3 separate regions of the Homo sapiens genome follow, and regions 1 and 2 are each linked to region 3. The links come from fine-mapping of genetic effects on gene expression. A gene starts in region 3. Each other region holds a variant in brackets. All regions are shown on one strand. Distances are from middle to middle.

The links. PIP is the estimated chance that this variant, and not a neighbour inherited with it, causes the effect. A credible set is the group of variants that fine-mapping cannot tell apart.
Region 1: its variant is the best candidate, but not a certain one, in a credible set for the expression of CFAP46 in monocytes after Pam3CSK4 (Quach 2016, PIP 0.66).
Region 2: its variant is the best candidate, but not a certain one, in a credible set for the expression of CFAP46 in spleen (GTEx, PIP 0.51).

Annotation. Positions count from the first base shown.
Region 1 is chr10:132,908,034-132,913,583 of GRCh38, reverse strand. CFAP46 (cilia and flagella associated protein 46) reads left to right here. Exons shown (of 58, transcript NM_001200049.3): 18 at 326-538; 19 at 764-929; 20 at 3,516-3,665; 21 at 4,340-4,447; 22 at 4,950-5,116. Among named protein-coding and RNA genes, the nearest start is that of CFAP46, 32 kb to the left of the region's middle. RefSeq lists enhancers at 1-749, 750-1,557. The variant T/C (reference allele first, on the strand shown) is at 2,506.
Region 2 is chr10:133,108,007-133,113,556 of GRCh38, reverse strand. The region is part of intron 5 of ADGRA1 (adhesion G protein-coupled receptor A1); the gene reads right to left. Among named protein-coding and RNA genes, the nearest start is that of ADGRA1, 23 kb to the right of the region's middle. The variant C/TC (reference allele first, on the strand shown) is at 3,102.
Region 3 is chr10:132,939,712-132,945,261 of GRCh38, reverse strand. CFAP46 (cilia and flagella associated protein 46) reads left to right here and starts at 2,692. Exons shown (of 58, transcript NM_001200049.3): 1 at 2,692-2,826; 2 at 3,158-3,282; 3 at 3,540-3,671; 4 at 4,202-4,266. The coding sequence starts at 2,778. It overlaps LINC01166 (long intergenic non-protein coding RNA 1166), which reads left to right. Exons shown (of 2, transcript NR_120627.1): 2 at 1-1,295. It overlaps LOC105378572 (a long non-coding RNA gene), which reads right to left and starts at 1,895. Exons shown (of 3, transcript XR_007062348.1): 1 at 687-1,895; 2 at 137-242. RefSeq lists enhancers at 2,212-2,795, 2,796-3,379.

The sequences.
Region 1 (5,550 bases), 32 kb after region 3:
GGATGAAACGTTTCCACCTCAGATCATCAGGTGTTCAATTCTCGCAAGGAGCACGCGGCCTAGATCCTTGGAATGCGCTGATCGCAATAGGGTTCGCGCTCCTGTGAGACTGGAATGCAGCTGTTGATGGGACGGGAGGCGGGGCTCAGGTGGGAGTGCCAGCGGCGGGGCGACTGTAAATGCAGATGGAGTTTGGTCGCCGCCCACCCGCCCCTCCCACTTCTTGCCCTGCAGCCTGGTTCCTAACAGGCCCCGCAGCCTTCCTGGTGCCTGGCCCCGGGGCTGGGGACCCTGCATTAAGGGCTTGGTGGTGCTCGTTTTGCAGAACCTGGATCGAGAGTCTGTCCCGGTGTGCCATGAATAACTGGCTGCGCTCCGCAGAGATCGGACAGGAGATCCAGGAGGCGTGGATTGTGCAGAACGCCGTGGTCTACGTCCTGAACCACAACCACCACCTGATCCTGGCCGGGCGGCAGAAGGAGCTGGTGGACGCCCTGTACCACCTCCTGAGCATCGTTAAGGCCACAGGCCACAGTGGGTGCGTGTGGGCTGTGCTGCGTTCACGCAGGGAGGGGCTTCTTCCCTTGGGAGACCCCAGAGCAAAGGCAGGCAGCTGCACTCCATGGCCCTCTGTGTCCCAGCAGAGGAGGGTCGTGGGCACCCGTGCATCTCAGGCCTCTTACCGTGACCTGAGGACTCAGCACATGGGATCGGGGCGAGGCCTGCGGGGGCCAAGGTTCCCTCTGACAAGCATGTCTCCCAGGGACCCCGTGATGCTGGTGACGCTCTGCAACACCTTGGCGCGAGGCCTGATCATCAGCTGGATTCCAGTCCAGGCTGCCGAGAAGTCCAGGAAATTCATGCGACCAAACGCGTTTCACAGCCCACTGGACGCAGGAGCCACTTCCGAGATCAAAACAGCGGTGGAGGTACCACCTCCATGATGCCGAGAGAGAGAGAGAGAGAGAGAGAGAGAGAGGAGAGAGGAGAGAGAGAGAGGAGAGGAGAGGTGAAAGAGGAGAGAGGTGAAGAGAGAGAGAGAGGAGAGGAGAGAGGTGAAGAGAGAGAGAGGAGAGGAGAGAGAGGTGAAAGAGGAGAGAGAGATGTGAAGAGAGAGAGAGGTGAAGAGAGAGAGAGAGGAGAGGAGAGAGGGAGGTGAGAGAGAGAGATGAGCAGAGAGAGGAGAGGAGAGAGAGGCGAGAGAAGCAGAGAGAAGAGAGGAGAAAGAGAGGAGAAGAGACAGGAGAGAGAGAAGAAGAGAGGAGAAGAGACAGGAGAAAGAGAGGAGAGAGAGAGGAGGAGAGAGGAGAAGAGAGAGGAGAGGGAAGAGAGAGAGAGGAAAGAGGACAGGAGAGAGGAGAAGAGAGAGGAGAGGGAAGAGAGAGAGAGGAAAGAGGACAGGAGAGAGGAGGAGAGAGAAGAGAGAGAGGAGAGAGAGAGAGATGTGGGGGTGGGGGGGTGGGGGTGGAGGGAGAGAGCAGGGAGGCAGCTGACCTGAGACAGAGCCCTGCAGACCTGTAGCTGGAGGCTGGGGCTGAGCTTCTGAAGGCTCCTGGAAAGGCCCTGGGAGAGCAAACTGCCTTCAGTGGAGGCGACAGACGTGAGAACAATCTAGGAAGTAAAACGTCAGGGGCTCCAGTTACTGGGAAATAAGGCCAGGGCTGGAGAGAGGAAAACAAGACCCGTGGGTGGGTGTGAGGCCTCCCCTCAGGGCGGGCTCCAGGCCTAGAGGAGAGTGGAAATAGAACCAGAAACGGCGGATTGGAACGGCGAGAAACAGGGACCACACCACCCACACATGCAGCCGTCCCAGTAAAATGCAGCAGACCCAGTGTGTGGGACGATCCTGGTGGCCCAGGCGGATCATTTATCCCATGGAATGTGGATTTTGTTGTAATCCAAAAGGAAGGGAAAAGAAATAGTGTTCTCGTTGACAGATGCTGCAGAAGTGTTTGATGAGCCATTGCCCATTTCTAACTCAGAAGAGCCTCAAAGAACCCGAGAGAAAGCCGGTTTCCTAATGAGTCAAGGGAGTCTGTGGGGAACCTCCTGGAGCCTGTGTGTGGAGCACCCGCGGTGGGGCGGGGGCAGGGAGGCCTTGAGTGTCTCCGCAGGGGCACGGGGCGGGGGAGCTGTCCCCACCCTTGCGGAAGACTTTGTGCTAAAGCTCATCCTGCATGACCCTTTCTGGGCCATGGATAAAACCGCGGGCTGGAGAGTCTTGAGCCTGCGGCCCGGCACTCACAACGCTCACAGTCAGCTGCGCCAGGCCAGAGCCAGAGAGGGCCCTAGTGCTCCCAGCTCCCAGTGGGGACGGCTGGCCCTGGGCAGTCAGTGTGGGCCGGCCAGGAACACCGGCTGTGGCATCAGGTGCAGGTCGTTCTTCCGAGAAGGGACAAGGGGCCGGCTCCGGGGACCTACAGGGATCAGGCTGGAGGCTGCGGAGGGGAGGGCGCCGTGGGCGGCTCAGGCAGCTGTGGGTGCAGCTGAGCCTGCTGTGGGCCC[T/C]GGGAGGCAGCTGGGGGGTGCAGAGGAGCTTCCCTCTTAGATGTGATGATGGCTGGATCCAGATGCTGAGAGGAAATGCCAGCACCGACTTGGCAGCCCGGGAACACGGAGTGAATGGCGGAGAGTGTGAGGAAGCCGGCTTGGGCGGTGCCTGGACTGGGCATGTGCACAACCGCACGGGGAGTCAGGTGGTGAACAGGGGAGTGAGTGCTCCCCAAACACATTCCGATGGGATGGCTGTGTGGAACTTGACAAATGTTTGGAAGTTTATCCAGAAGGAAGGATGGAGGGGAGGAAAGGGAAGGACGCTGCCCAGTAGGTGTCTGTGCTACCAAGACGTTTTGCAAGGAGCAGGTGTTCACAAGGCAGCGAGAGATGGGACATCCCTGGGTTAGCAAGAGGTCACTCCCGGTGGCCAGTGCTTCCTGCACCGGGCGAGGCTCTGAACAAGGACTCACCGATCCTCACGACGACCCATAGACTGGGTTTCATTTCTACATAGAGATGAGGAAACTGAGGCGCACAGCATGAAGAAACTCACCTGGTCACACGGCCAGCAAGACAGGGAGCTGGGGCGCAGCCCAGGGGCTCAGGGCAGCAGCCCACATGCCCGTCACTGCAGGCAAAGCACGTGGCAGATTTCACGCCCCCACTTTCGGGGCTCCGTCCTTGCTGCCCCACCCCCAACCGATACCAGCTGCAGTGGGGGAGGGGTGCTGGCTCAGCTGCTCCTTCCTGCGGGGTCCCAGGCCCATGCCGTGGGGACAGCTCAGGAGTGAGGGCCGGGGCGCACTGGAGGCCAGGTGGCAGCTGCGTCCTCGGCGTCTGGGGGTGGGGCTTCATCTGCTGGGTTTGTGGTGCAGCCGCTGGTGGGCCTGAGGTCTCGTGTTTAAGGCCCTTCACGGGCTGGATCAGGAGCGGGCTCCATCCATCTTTTAATGGTTCGGATCTTGGCTCAAGGTCCCCTGTTTAGAATTCAGGTTTCGTGACCGAGAACACGTCTGTCCTAGGTCTGCGAGTTTGCCCTGAACCTGACCAATGGGAGTGCGCCCGAGGAGACGGTGCCCACCGGCACCCGGCAGCAGCTTATCGCCACCTGGGTCAAGGCCAAGCAGCTGCTGCAGCAGCAGATTGGGCCACGGCTGGGCACCGAGGAGCAGGTGGGCGCCCCTGCCCACATCTGGGCTCTGACTGAGGCCCTGTGGACATAGAGATCTGAGACAGCCGGGGGTGGTGGGGCCCCCGGGACCACTTAGCTCCAGATGGAGCCATCACGGATGGCCTGGGCACTCCCTTTTCCCACTGAGCTCACCGCCGCTGGCTGCCCTTGAGTGTGGCACGGGGCCTCCTCTGCCCACCCGTCCACGGGGTCTGTGAGCTGCTGGGCCTGTGGGGGTGCTGCGCTCTCCCAAGGAGGAGTGGGCCCAGGGCCGGCCCCATGAGCTCCTGGAAAGCCAGATGGAGGAGGGGCCTTGGAGCCTGGCCAGGAGCCAGGCCCTAGTGGGGCCCAGGGAGGCGGGGAGGGTCCAGGTGTTGACCTGCCTGCCCCAGCAGCCACCATGTCAGGCCCACTGGTCCTTCCCTCCTCGGGGGTCACCCAGCCTTCAGACAAGGCTGCCTCACACATGGGGGCCGCACGGACTTGGGGCTCCTCGTTGTATGAGAAGATGACCTGCAGGTCAACAGTTACAAAAACAGCCTAAGGTATAAACGCTCCCAATTTTGTGGTCTGATTATTGCCATAAAACTAATACCTTGCAGTGTTAAATTCACGCATATTCCAGACTCCCCCCGCACGCTTGGGCTGATACACTCAGGGCATCCTCCCCACCAGGGCACCAATGAGGATGTCAGCTCGGTGACCAGAGTCCTCGTTGCCTTGGAAATGTACTCATGCAACGGGCTGGGCCTCATGGACTTCACTGTCCCCTCCCTGGCCCAGGTAGGTGTCCCCAGGGGTCCCGGGAGGCCAGGGGCCAAGAGGCGAGGACGCCGAGGCTCTTGCCCTAGGTGGCTGGAACTCGAGCCCCATCGTGCATGCTCACCCCCACTCTGCCCCGCTCTCCCCCACCTCCCAACGGAGCTGCGCCCCCTCGACGCACTTCCTTCAGCTCCATGCTCAGAGCATCCCTGTCTCCTGGTGCGAGGCAAACGCTGTTTGAGCGGACCCTCCATTCCCACCCAACCCTGAGCCGCTCAGGGGCAGCCAAGGGCTGCACACGCCAGTCCCGTGTCCAGGACACCCTGTGGGGTGTGGGAGCTACAAGGACATCAGGGGTCCTCACAGGCACGGACGTGGCAGCTCAGCTTTTGTGGCACGGTGGCCCTTCACAGGCCACGCCTCTGCTTAGGATCACATGCGCTGCGTGGTCCGTGGGGGCTGCAGGCCGTGGGAAGTTCGTTGTTGCTAACACGGTGCCCCTTCTCTTGCCACCCACCGGAAGTTGGTGAAAATGGCTTCCGAGTGCAACTGGTCGGACCCCCTGGTGGAGCTGCAGACCCTGACGCGGCTGACCCACTTCGCCCATGCAGCGCGTGACCATGAGACCACCATGGCCTGTGCTCACAGGGCTCTGGAGATGGGCATCAAGTACCTGAAGAAATTTGGGCCGTAAGTAACCCTCATGACTGGACAAATTCCCTCAAAACGGGCAGGGAGCGCAGGCCTGGGCCTCAATCACAGATCAGGGAGCAGGTGAGCGCCCCACCAGTTCCCCAAAACGGGCAGGGAGCGCGGGCCTGGGCCGCGATCACAGATCAGGGCGCGTGTGAGCGCCCCACCAGGTCCCCAAAACGGGCAGGGAGCGCGGGCCTGGGCGGCGATCACAGATCAGGGAGCAGGTGAGCACTCCACCAGGTCTCCAGGCCCAGTCCAGAAAGCTTCCCACAGGCCTCAGCCATGTGCACAGGCAGCCTCCGTCCTGCCGGCCCCGTGCCCTCATGGACAAGTCAGCAGTGGCCCCGTGGAAAGCTGGTCAGGAAGGATTCTGAAGTCACGTGGGCCTCAGCAGGAGGGGTGTGTGGCCTGCTGGCCGCGTGTGCATT
Region 2 (5,550 bases), 170 kb before region 3:
AGCCCAGTGGGGTCCAAGCCAGGCCCAGTGCGTGGCCACGGGCAGGTCCCAAGCCCAAGGCAGTCTCCAGAGTTTGCCCTGTGGCCTAGAGAGGGTTCCCAGCTGAAGGAGCCCCAGGAAATCACTCATCCATGGGGTGGGGTCAAGCATCCCTCAGCGCCTGGCCAGCACTGGGGAGGCTGCGAGGCAGGTGAAGGCGGGAGCAGGCATCCTCGGCAAGCCGGGCCGTGACACGGAATCTAAGTGCCGCGGTGCCATTGGACTTCCAAACCGAAACACGGCCCACAGACCCCAAATAACTGACACAGCTTACAGACCTCAAATAACTGACGCGGCCCGCAGACCTCAAATAACCGACGCGGCTTACAGACCTCAAATAACCGACGCGGCTTACAGACCTCAAATAACCGACGTGGCCCACAGACCTCAAATAACCGACACAGCTTACAGACCCCAAATAACCGAACCGACACGGCCCGCAGACCCCAAATAACTGACACAGCTTATAGACCCCAAATAACTGACGCGGCCCGCAGACCCCAAATAACTGACACAGCTTATAGACCCCAAATAACTGACGCGGCCCGCAGACCCCAAATAACCGACACAGCCCGCAGACCTCAAATAACCGACACAGCTTACAGACCCCAAATAACCGAACTGACGCGGCCCGCAGACCCCAAATAACCGACGTGGCCCGCAGACCTCCAATAACCAACACAGCTTACAGACCCCAAATAACCGAACCAACACGGCCCGCAGACCCCAAATAACCGACATAGCTTACAGACCCCAAATAACCGACGCGGCCCGCAGACCTCAAATAACCGACGCGGCCCGCAGACCCCAAATAACTGACGTGGCCCGTAGACCCCAAATAACCGACATGGCCCACAGACCCCAAATAACGGACGCGGCCCGTAGACCCCAAATAACCGACGTAGCCCGTAGACTCCAAATAACCGACACGGCCCGCAGACCTCAAATAACCGATGCGGCCCACAGACCTCAAATAACCGACGCGGCCTGCAGACCCCAAATAACCAACACTGCTTACAGACCCCAAATAACCGACGCGGCCCGCAGACCCCAAATAACTGACGTGGCCCGTAGACCCCAAATAACCGACATGGCCCGCAGACCCCAAATAACGGACGCGGCCCGTAGACCCCAAATAACCGACACGGCCCGCAGACCCCAAATAACTGACGCAGCCTGCAGACCCCAGATAACCGATGCGGCCCGCAGACCCCAAATAACTGACACAGCTTGGTGCACTTGATCAGAAAGGGTGGCCGTACTGCAAAATTAAGATGTCATTATTCATGGCTAAATGGGGAATCAGCCCCCGAGCACCTATGAAATCACAAAAGGTCTGCTTGTTTCTGGAGTGTCTTCCTTTTGGCTGGCAAAGGGAGCAGAAAATGTGGAAAGTTCTGTCTACTTAGAGGCCCTTCCTCAAAGTGGGCTGGCCAGCAGGATTAGGAGGGAGATGCCCATGGCAGGCAGGTGGTCTGGAGGCATTAGGAGGGAGGTGTCTGTGGTGGGCAGGTGGTCTGGAGGCATTAGGAGGGAGGTGCCTGTGGTGGGCAGGTGGTCTGGAGGGATTAGGAGGGAGGTGCTCACGGCGGGCAGGTGGTCTGGAGGCATTAGGAGGGAGGTGTCTGTGGTGGGCAGGTGGTCTGGAGGGATTAGGAGGGAGGTGCCCGTGGTGGGCAGGTGGTCTGGTGGGATTAGGAGGGAGGTGCCTGTGGTGGGCAGGTGGTCTGGAGGGATTAGGAGGGAGGTGTCTGTGGCGGGCAGGTTGTCTGGTGGGATTAGGAGGGAGGTGCCCGTGGCGGGCAGGTGGTCTGGTGGGATTAGGAGGGATGGTTCCCGGGGGGGCAGGTTGTCTGGTGGGATTAGGAGGGAGGTGTCCGTGGTGGGCAGGTTGTCTGGTGGGATTAGGAGGGAGGTGTCCGTGGTGGGCAGGTTGTCTGGTGGGATTAGGAGGGAGGTGTCCGTGGTGGGCAGGTTGTCTGGTGGGATTAGGAGGGAGGTGTCTGTGGTGGGCAGGTTGTCTGGTGGGATTAGGAGGGAGGTGTCCGTGGTGGGCAGGTTGTCTGGTGGGATTAGGAGGGAGGTGTCCGTGGTGGGCAGGTTGTCTGGTGGGATTAGGAGGGAGGTGTCCGTGGTGGGCAGGTTGTCTGGTGGGATTAGGAGGGAGGTGCCTGTGGTGGGCAGGTGGTCTGGTGGGATTAGGAGGGATGGTTCCCGGGGGGGCAGGTTGTCTGGTGGGATTAGGAGGGAGGTGCCTGTGGTGGGCAGGTTGTCTGGTGGGATTAGGAGGGAGGTGCCTGTGGTGGGCAGGTTGTCTGGAGGGATTAGGAGGGAGGTGCTCACGGCGGGCAGGTGGTCTGGTGGGATTAGGAGAGGAGGCACCCCTGGCGGGCAGGTGGCCAGCAGGATTAGGAGGGGAGCTGCCCATGGCAGGCAGGTGGCTTGGCAGGATTAGGAGGGCAGGTGTCCCTGGTGGGCAGGTGGCCCAGCCTACCCAGAACCTCCCCAGTTCAGCCACATTTCCACTTAACAGATTCAGAAACAACCCTTCAGTGGGCTGTGCTCACATTGGAGCAGGTGCTTGGGGACCTGGGATCACTGAATTATCCAGCAGCACCTGTGTCCAGGGCCCCATGCAGACATCACTCTGCGGCAAAGGGATTGGGCAGGAAACTAAAGACAAGGAAGGGGAAGAGGCTGAATAGAGGTCAAAACAGAATTCCGGAAAATAAATCTGGATTGTGAGATATGGGTATAGAGGAAGCAGGCTAATTGTTCAGACATGGGCATCAGACCACTGGCTTTTGTTTTGTGTACAAAGGGTCAGCTCAGGGTGCATAATATTTGCCCTTATTCTTTTTCTTCCAGTATTTCTTTATATTTCTTACCGACTCTCTCTCTCTCAGGCTTTCTTTCTTCTCACTCATATAGTTAGAAATGGCAGATCCAAGGAGCTTCTCTCTGAACATTCGACCCTGTGCAGCTCAGTGTTGCTCTGCAGAAGGGCCAGCTCTGGGGCGTGGCAGGTGCCTGGGTCAGTGGCTTTCAGCACATTCCCCACG[C/TC]ACTGCCTGATAAGGCTGCTCTGTGTGCAGGGACGCAGGATGTGGCACTACAGCAGCCTGGGCTGTTTGCATGAACCTTATGACTGACGGCAGCACCTGCCTTCCCGCCAGAGTGTGAGGCTCCGTAGCTGTGGCCAGCGGAGCTGGCAGAGCACACAGGAGTGACCTGTCCCAGCAAGAATGCGGAGCTTGAGCCTGAGCGGCCTCCTGGGCAGAAGTGCGGGGCACACTTTGCTGCATTTTGCTGCTGGAGGAAGGAGCAGGTTCCGTGTGGATCCTCCCCACCTGCCGTCTCCCAGGACAGGAGAACTTTGGAGACGGCACCTGGAGTCTTGGACCCTGCTGGATGTCTTTTCCCTCGTTGGCCCTGTGGTGTATCCTTCTGTGGAGACAAACCACACCCAGGAACGCCGCCGCTGCTGAGTCCTGAGTGTATCTTCCAGCCCCTCCCTGAGTGTATCTTTCTGTGGAGACAAACCACACCCAGGAATGCCACCACTGCTGAGTCCCGAGTCCTTCCAGCCCCGCCCTGAGTGTGCAGAGGCCGTGGGGCCTGACACTGCATGACGGGCAGTGTGCTGCTCACCCAAGCCTCAGAACAAAGTATGAAACTGATTGCTTTCCATCGACACATCCAGCCCAGCTGAGCCTGGAGGCCGATTTCACACATATTTACTACATCCCTGCCGTTTGTCTCTTTCTGGTTTCAACATTTAATCAGGAGGGGCTGGATGCCAAGCCTGGAGAATATGAACCAGGAGGGACCTTCCCGTCATTGTCATCGAGGGGAGGAGAGGTCAGGGGACAGTTGCTCTGCAATAGGAGGTGGGCACCGGGCAGAAGGTCGGGGTCTCACTTAAGAGGAAGCTGAGGTGCAGGGAGGAGGCTGGAATGGAGACGGGAGGTAACCATCCCACTGGAGGGACCGACCCTCAGTGCTCAAAGGGCAGGTGAGGCCAGGAAGGGGCAGACAGGAAGGCTCTGAGCCACAGCTGAGCAGCAATGGGGGGTCTGGGGAGTGGTCGTGGGGGCAAGCAGTCAGGCTTCCAGCTGGGGAGAAAAAGTATCCAGGTGGTGTGGAGGTGGCAGAGCAGGAGGCTGAGAAAGGGACCTGGAGGCCCGCTGGGGTCAGGGCAGTCCACAGAGCAGGAAAGATGAGGTCCAGGGAGCGGGGGCTGGGAGAGGAGGAGGGACAGGAAAGGTGGGGAAGACTCCTGGGCCTGGAGGTGTGGCCTGATCTGGGAAAGGGGGTAGAGAGTTTGGCAAAATGTCTAGCACCCAGACACGAATGCTGGGAGAGCAGTGCTGCTGCTGAGCTGCAAAGACATTGTGGGGGTGGAGCTGGTTCCATGGAGGATATGAGGGGCAGGGGTGGGGCCGGGGCCATGGAGGACATGAGGGGAGGGGTGGAGCTGGGGCCAAGTGGAGCTGGTTCCTTTGTGGGACTGATGGACGGGTGGAGCTGGGGCTAAGTGGAGCTGGGACCGTGGAGGACATGAGGGGACGGGTGGAGCTGGGGCCGAGTGGAGCTGGGACCATGGAGGACATGAGGGGAGGGGTGGAGCTGGGGCCAAGTGGAGCTGGGACCATGGAGGACATGAGGGGAGGGGTGGAGCTGGGGCCGAGTGGAGCTGGGACCATGGAGGATGTGAGGGGAGGGGTGGAGCTGGGGCCACATGCACCCAGTATTGAGCTGTCTTGGGATATCTGAGGGAGGCATCAGGAGGCTGCGGCAAATGTGTGTAGTGGTCAGGACTGGTGGGCAGACTGCAAATGGTGTTTTGTGGACTGGCAACAGAGTCTTGCAACAGAGTCTAGTGTCTAGAATCTTGAGAGTATTGGGAGGTGACAGTGGCCACCATGTTGGTCAAAGGTGAGGGTGCCTGAATCCAAGGAGGCACCACTGTGAGGGGTTGGGTGGCTGAGCCGGTGCCTCTGTGGGCCTGGGGGGTCCTGTGTCCAACACCTCTGTCTCCTCCCTGCCAATCCTCTTCCTCCTTCCCTTCTGGTGTCCCTCCCTGCTTCCTTCTCCACGGAGTCACCCTAGCCCCATTTAGCAGTGCCAAGAGTCCATGGACTCCTCGGTTGAGGCTGCACCTGTCCTTCTCCTAAACTCTCCCCTACAAGGCTGAGGGTGACACTTCTGTTGGCCAAAGGCTCACGCCAGGTTCTGTGTGGTTTCTCACCCACAGGAGGCCCCGAGGCAGAGCTCTGGGGCCAGGGACCAGATTCACACACAACCTACAACCATGCCTGCACTGAAGACACCAGCAGGGCAGCAGGTCCTGCACACTCCCAGGTGTGCTCGGGGAGGTCTGTGTGATGCCTGGTCCAGGCCTAACCTTGAGGCACTCCCTGGCCCCTCGTGCCCACATCCACTCCACTCCTCACATGTGGAGAAAGGGAAGAAGGCTGGGCTGGCCAGGGCAGGCCACACAGCAGGATGTGC
Region 3 (5,550 bases):
GACCCCGCACATCACCACGTCCCTCCTGCCCCCGGCTTCTGCTTGCCTGTCCCCAGGAGCTGGGATGCCAGGTCGATTTCAACTAAGTTCTCTTTTACGGACATACACACCAGTGGGATTTGATTACTGGCCTCACCTGCGCTGGAAGAAGCTCTATCTTTAACTTCTGTTCTGCTCATTCTGCTCATGTATATATTCTGAGATGTTTTAAACAACAATTCACCCATCTTCCTGGCTTTCACCTGATGAAATTACAAATGTTCAGAATTCTCACCACCTTCTGGTTAAGCAAGTGTCATGGATTGAACTGTGTCCCCCTGAAACTCTTATGCTGGAGTCCTAGTCCCACGGCCTCAGAATGTGGCCTTATTTGGAGACAGGGTCTTCACAGAGGTGATCTATTTAACAGGAGGTCCCAGGGTGGGCCCTAAACCCCATGGCTGGTGTCCATATAAGATGGGCACATTTGGACACCGAGACACAGACAAGAAGACGACCACATACGGCCACGCGGGGTGCCCTCCAAGGAACCAACTCCGGCCGCACCTTGTTCTCGGCCTTCCCGCCTCCTTTCCCGCTGTTTAAGCCGCCCATGAGAGTGCCCCGTGATGGCAACGCCAGCGGGCGCATATACAGCAGGCCTCTGGGGTCCAGCCTGGGAGCCCAGACACAGACACCGTCTCTACCTGGCAAGATGGGGTGATGAAATGAGAAATGAATAGATCTGGTCTCTGCTCCCGAGACCCCGCACAGGGCTCCAAAAGCCCTCGAATTTCCTGGGTGATGGCAGCAGATTCTTCCATTCAAATGAGGTGAGGCTTGGTGGCTCCTGGAGGGGGTCCAGTCACCAGAGAGACCAGCCAGGATTAGCACCTGCAGCTCTCAACCCTGCACCCACCCTCCTCCAGGGATCATCCACCATCATCCTTCATGTCTGCGATGGAGCCTCCATAAGAATGCCTGGACTATGGGTCCCGAGCAGTTCCAGGTTGCTGAACACATCCACGGGCCAGGAGGGTGGTGCCCCCCACTCCACGGACACAGAAGCTCCTGGGCTGGGGACCCTTTCCGACCCTGCCCTGTGCCCCGGCCCACCTGGCTGCCCATCTGCGGCCTTTCTCATCTCCTTTTCCTGCGTTCTGTGATAATTTTGTGTTGCACTCTTGATATTTAAGGCTAATGTGTAACTAGAAAACTGAGTTTTAATATTTAATGCCCTTGGATTTGGGAAATCTCTTACTACATTATGTTTGGATATACTTTCTCTGAGGGGATAAATATTTTATCGAGGCTGTACCCATGTGTGGAGTGTCTTTACCAACAAAGGCCCATCTGAGAACTGTCTTTGGGAAGGAATATGGTCATTTAGCAGGGATCTGAGGCTGCCAACTTCAAGACGGGGTGGGGCTCTAGGAGCCTGAGAAACATACGACGTTCAGGTTTCAAAACTATGTCCAGGCAGCTTATTTGATCCCATGTAGGTATGGTGGCCTCTCCCGGGTGGAATTCCACTCTCCCAGGTGGGCCTCTCCCAGGCGGTCCTCTCTCAGGGGGTTCTCTCCCAGGTGGGCCTCTCCTGGGTGGAATTCCACTCTCCCAGGTGGGCCTCTCCCAGGCGGTCCTCTCTCAGGGGGTCCTCTCCCAGGTGGGCCTCTCCCGGGTGGAATTCCACTCTCCCAGGTGGGCCTCTCCCAGGCGGTCCTCTCTCAGGGGGTCCTCTCCCAGGTGGGCCTCTCCCGGGTGGAATTCCACTCTCCCACGTGGGACTCTCGTGGGTGGGCCTCTCCCAGGGGGTCCTCTCCCAGGTGGGCCTACCCCAGGTGGGCCTCCCCTAGAGCTCCCCTAGTGTGCCCACCCCGGGGTGAGTCCCGGGCCCTCCCCTCCCCAGGCCGACCCAAGTCCTTCAGTGGCTCCGGCTTCCCCGCGCGGGGGCTGCGCGCCCCGCCAAGCCTCCAATTCGGGTCGGTCGTAGGCGCCGTCCGGACCCCGGCCGGAAAGCAGCCCCGGCTGGGAGGTGGGGAGCCCCGGGGGGCAGGTGGCTGCGCTGCTACCCTCTCCGTGGGGGCCGGGGCTCTGCGTCTGCTCCTCCCGCCTCGGCCACCCCCTGCTGCCAGGTCTTAGCTCGTCCCCAGACCCGGCGGCCCCATCCACGCCCGCAGCCCGCATTTCCACTGCGCGACTTTCTGTGCCCGCTGCACTTCCAGCACCGTGGCAGGGGCAAATCACCGCCTGTTAAAGTAATGACGGAATGAATGAAAGAACGAAAGAATGAAGGAATGACTGACTGACTGACTGACTGACTGACTGAATGGATGAATGAATGAATGAATGAATGAATGAATGAATGAATGAATGAGCCGACGAGCGCAGGCGCGAAGGACGCAGTCGGAAGTTCCCGGGGAAGGTGGAGGGTGAGCCCGGGGTCAGGACCAGAACCCGGGCACACAGGAGCCCTGAGCGGGGAGAGGAGGCCCGCGCGGAGCCCCCGGCGTCCCCCCACGCCGCCTTCCCTCCCCTTTCTTCTTCCCGCCCCTCGCCGGGGGTCGCTGCCCTGGTGTCTCACTCCCGCGGAGCTGGCGGGGGGCAGGGCGGGGGCGCGGCGTTGTTCGCCTTCCCCGAAGTGTGGCCCCGCCGCCGACCCGTAGCCCCGCGTCCGCGTCCCTTTCGGTCTCCAGGCAACCGTGGCCGGGTCCTCGCGGCTGGAGAACCCAACCGACAGTGGGCGGCAGGACGCACCGCGGACCCCGGAGAGAGCGGACGAGCAGGGCGCCGGCGCCATGGACCTGGTCATCACGCAGGAGCTGGCCCGCGCCGAGAGCCAGCAAGGTGACCCCAGGCCCGCCACGACCCCCGCCCCGGGGAGGCCCCGGGACCCGCCACGACCCCCGCCCCGGGGAGGCCCCGGACCCTCTCATCCCAGCCCGCCCAATGGGTGATCCCTCGAGGGCCACAGCCGGAGCCCCCACCTCCCGATCGTCTGACCAGAGCAAACGTACAGGAAGGCGCCCACACCGCTGCTCCCTGGCGGCGACAGGTTCTGACGGTGGCTGTGGCCCGGGGGCCCAAGGCGGCTGCCTGGGGCCTTCGGGATGGCGTTGCCCGGCTCACTTCTCCCAGCCCAGTGACCAAACCTTCCTCAACCACCCGTTTGGGACAGATGCTGCGTCCTTGAAGAAGGCCTACGAGTTGATCAAATCGGCCAACCTAGGGAAATCGGAGTTTGACCCCTCAGAGAGCTTCAGCCCAGACCTGTTTGTTCTGTGTGCAGAGCAGGCCCTGAAGGTAACTAGTTCCCGGGATCCTCGGTCAGGGCAGCTTTGACAGGGAGAGGGAGGGCCTCTGGGTGTGCAGCGGATGCAGAGTGGGGCTGGGGAGAGGCAGCTCCTGGCCGGGCAGTCAAGGGGCCAGGATGGAGGATGGGGCTGGAAACAGGCTCCACCTGTGCTGGGGGCCTGTTCTGAAAGCGGGCCCGTGGTGCTTCTGGGCAGGGAGGCCACCCCTCCGGGTCTGTGATCTTCTGTGGTGGTGTTCTCTTGCAGATGAGGCAGCCAGAGGTGAGCGAGGACTGCATCCAAATGTACTTCAAGGTGAAGGCGCCCATCACCCAGTTTCTGGGCCGAGCGCACCTGTGCAGGGCCCAGATGTGTGCCCCGAAGTCGGCAGAAAACCTGGTGAGAGGCGTCCTGTGCCCCTTATCCCCAACAGTTCAATTTTCACCCCATCTCCAGAGCAATGCCAGGCTAGACCAGGCTTAAAATCGTTCTTAGGGTAGTAGAGTGAAGGAATTCCTTTCCAGAGTGACACGAAACTTGCACCATTTCCTGTCCATGCTTTTTGCTCAAGTGGTGATATCTGACACACAGGACCCCTGGACCTTTGCCTCGTAGCAGCGTGGTCTCTGTGGCATCTGCGCCTGCAGCTGCCCCGAGTGGGCACAGGGGAGCTGGGGTGGGGCGGGCGTGCTGGAGCACAGGCACTGCGGTTTCTGCTGCCTCGCTGTGTCTGCGGGACGGGAACCCGGGTGCAGGTCCAGGACCTCGCCACGACACTCAGGCTGTGTCTGCCACACCGTCACCTGTGGATACACAGGTGACACACAGGGGGTACCAGGCCAACCGTGAGGGAGCCGTGGCATCCGCAGATGGGGCAGTGAGCAGGGGTCAGTATTTCGGTCTAATTGTGCTTCTTTATGTTGCCTTAGGAGGAATTTGAAAATTGCGTGACTGAGTACATGAAGGCCATAAACTTTGCCAAAGGAGAACCGAGGTAGGCAAAATTGAAGTGGCCGTTTCTCACTGACTGGGTGAAAGACTTCAGAGCCAGAACTTATCAAGTGGGTGTATTTATTTGAACTGTGGGGTTTCCCCTCGTTTGTGGTCTGTGATTTTCATGCACGTGTGATCACTCCCTCATCTCGTCAGCGTGTGGACAGGCCACATTCATGCCGAATTCCGAGTAACAGCCTCTTTTGCACTCGGCGGTTTTCGTGATTTTAGATGGCTGTGAAGAGTCTGTTTTCTGCCGGGCGTGGTGGCACATGCCTGTAATCCCAACTGCTGGGGAGGCTGAGGCAGGAGAATCACTTGAACTCGGGAGGCGGAGGTTGCAGTGAGCCCAGATCACGCCACTGCACTCCAGCCTGGATGACAGCGAGACTCTGTATCAATAAAAAAAAAAAAAGAGTCTGTTTTCTCCAGGGCCTCCCCGGGCGCACCCCCAGGGCGCCTTCTCCTTCCCCACGGTTCCTTCTTCGGCCCAGCGTGCCTTTGCTGCTCCCTAGCGGACAACTTGGCCAAGGCCGCTGTCCCTGCGGAGGCGACTCCAGCACTTTCTACAAAATCAGTGCTTTCTGCACAAAAACAAATATCATGCTTCAAACTGTTAAGCTTGCACAAAACTGATTCATATCCTATTCAAATCAGTTTTGTGCAAGCTTGACAGTTTCAAGCATATTTGCTTGAACATATATCACATATTCAAATAGGATACAATGTTTGGAGGATATTTAAATAGAAGCTGTGGGTTCCCTGGTCTGTTCTACCCACATCGGCCTGCTTGTCTGCTGGTGGCCTTCTCTGGTCACACCCTGTTGCAAGTGCTGGGGATGTAGGGCCCAGCCCCACAGATCCTCTCTGCATGGGGACAGGGACGGGGAGGCCCCACCTCAAGCCACAGATTCTAAAGACAAGGGGTATTTCCAAGGGTGCTGTGACGCGGGAGTGGTGGGTACCATGGGAAGGAGGCTGCTCTGCTCCAGGGCCCTCAGGGGCACTGTGGACGGGTCAGGGGGTGACAGAGCCTTGCCAGAGGTCAGGACCATCTTTGGGAAGGGTCCAGGTTGTGTGGAGAGAGAGGGCAGCGCTGGCTTGTCCAGGGCAGTGTCAGTGGGACAGGAGACTGTGAGCCCAACCACGGGCATGTGGAGGCCACAGTGGGAATTTGGGGAGAGCCACTTACAGGGAGGAGACGGGTTCCTTTCGAGACGCAGCACTCAGGGAGACGCAGCACTCAGGGAGACGCAGCAGGCCGCTGGAGTCCCATGATGACCCC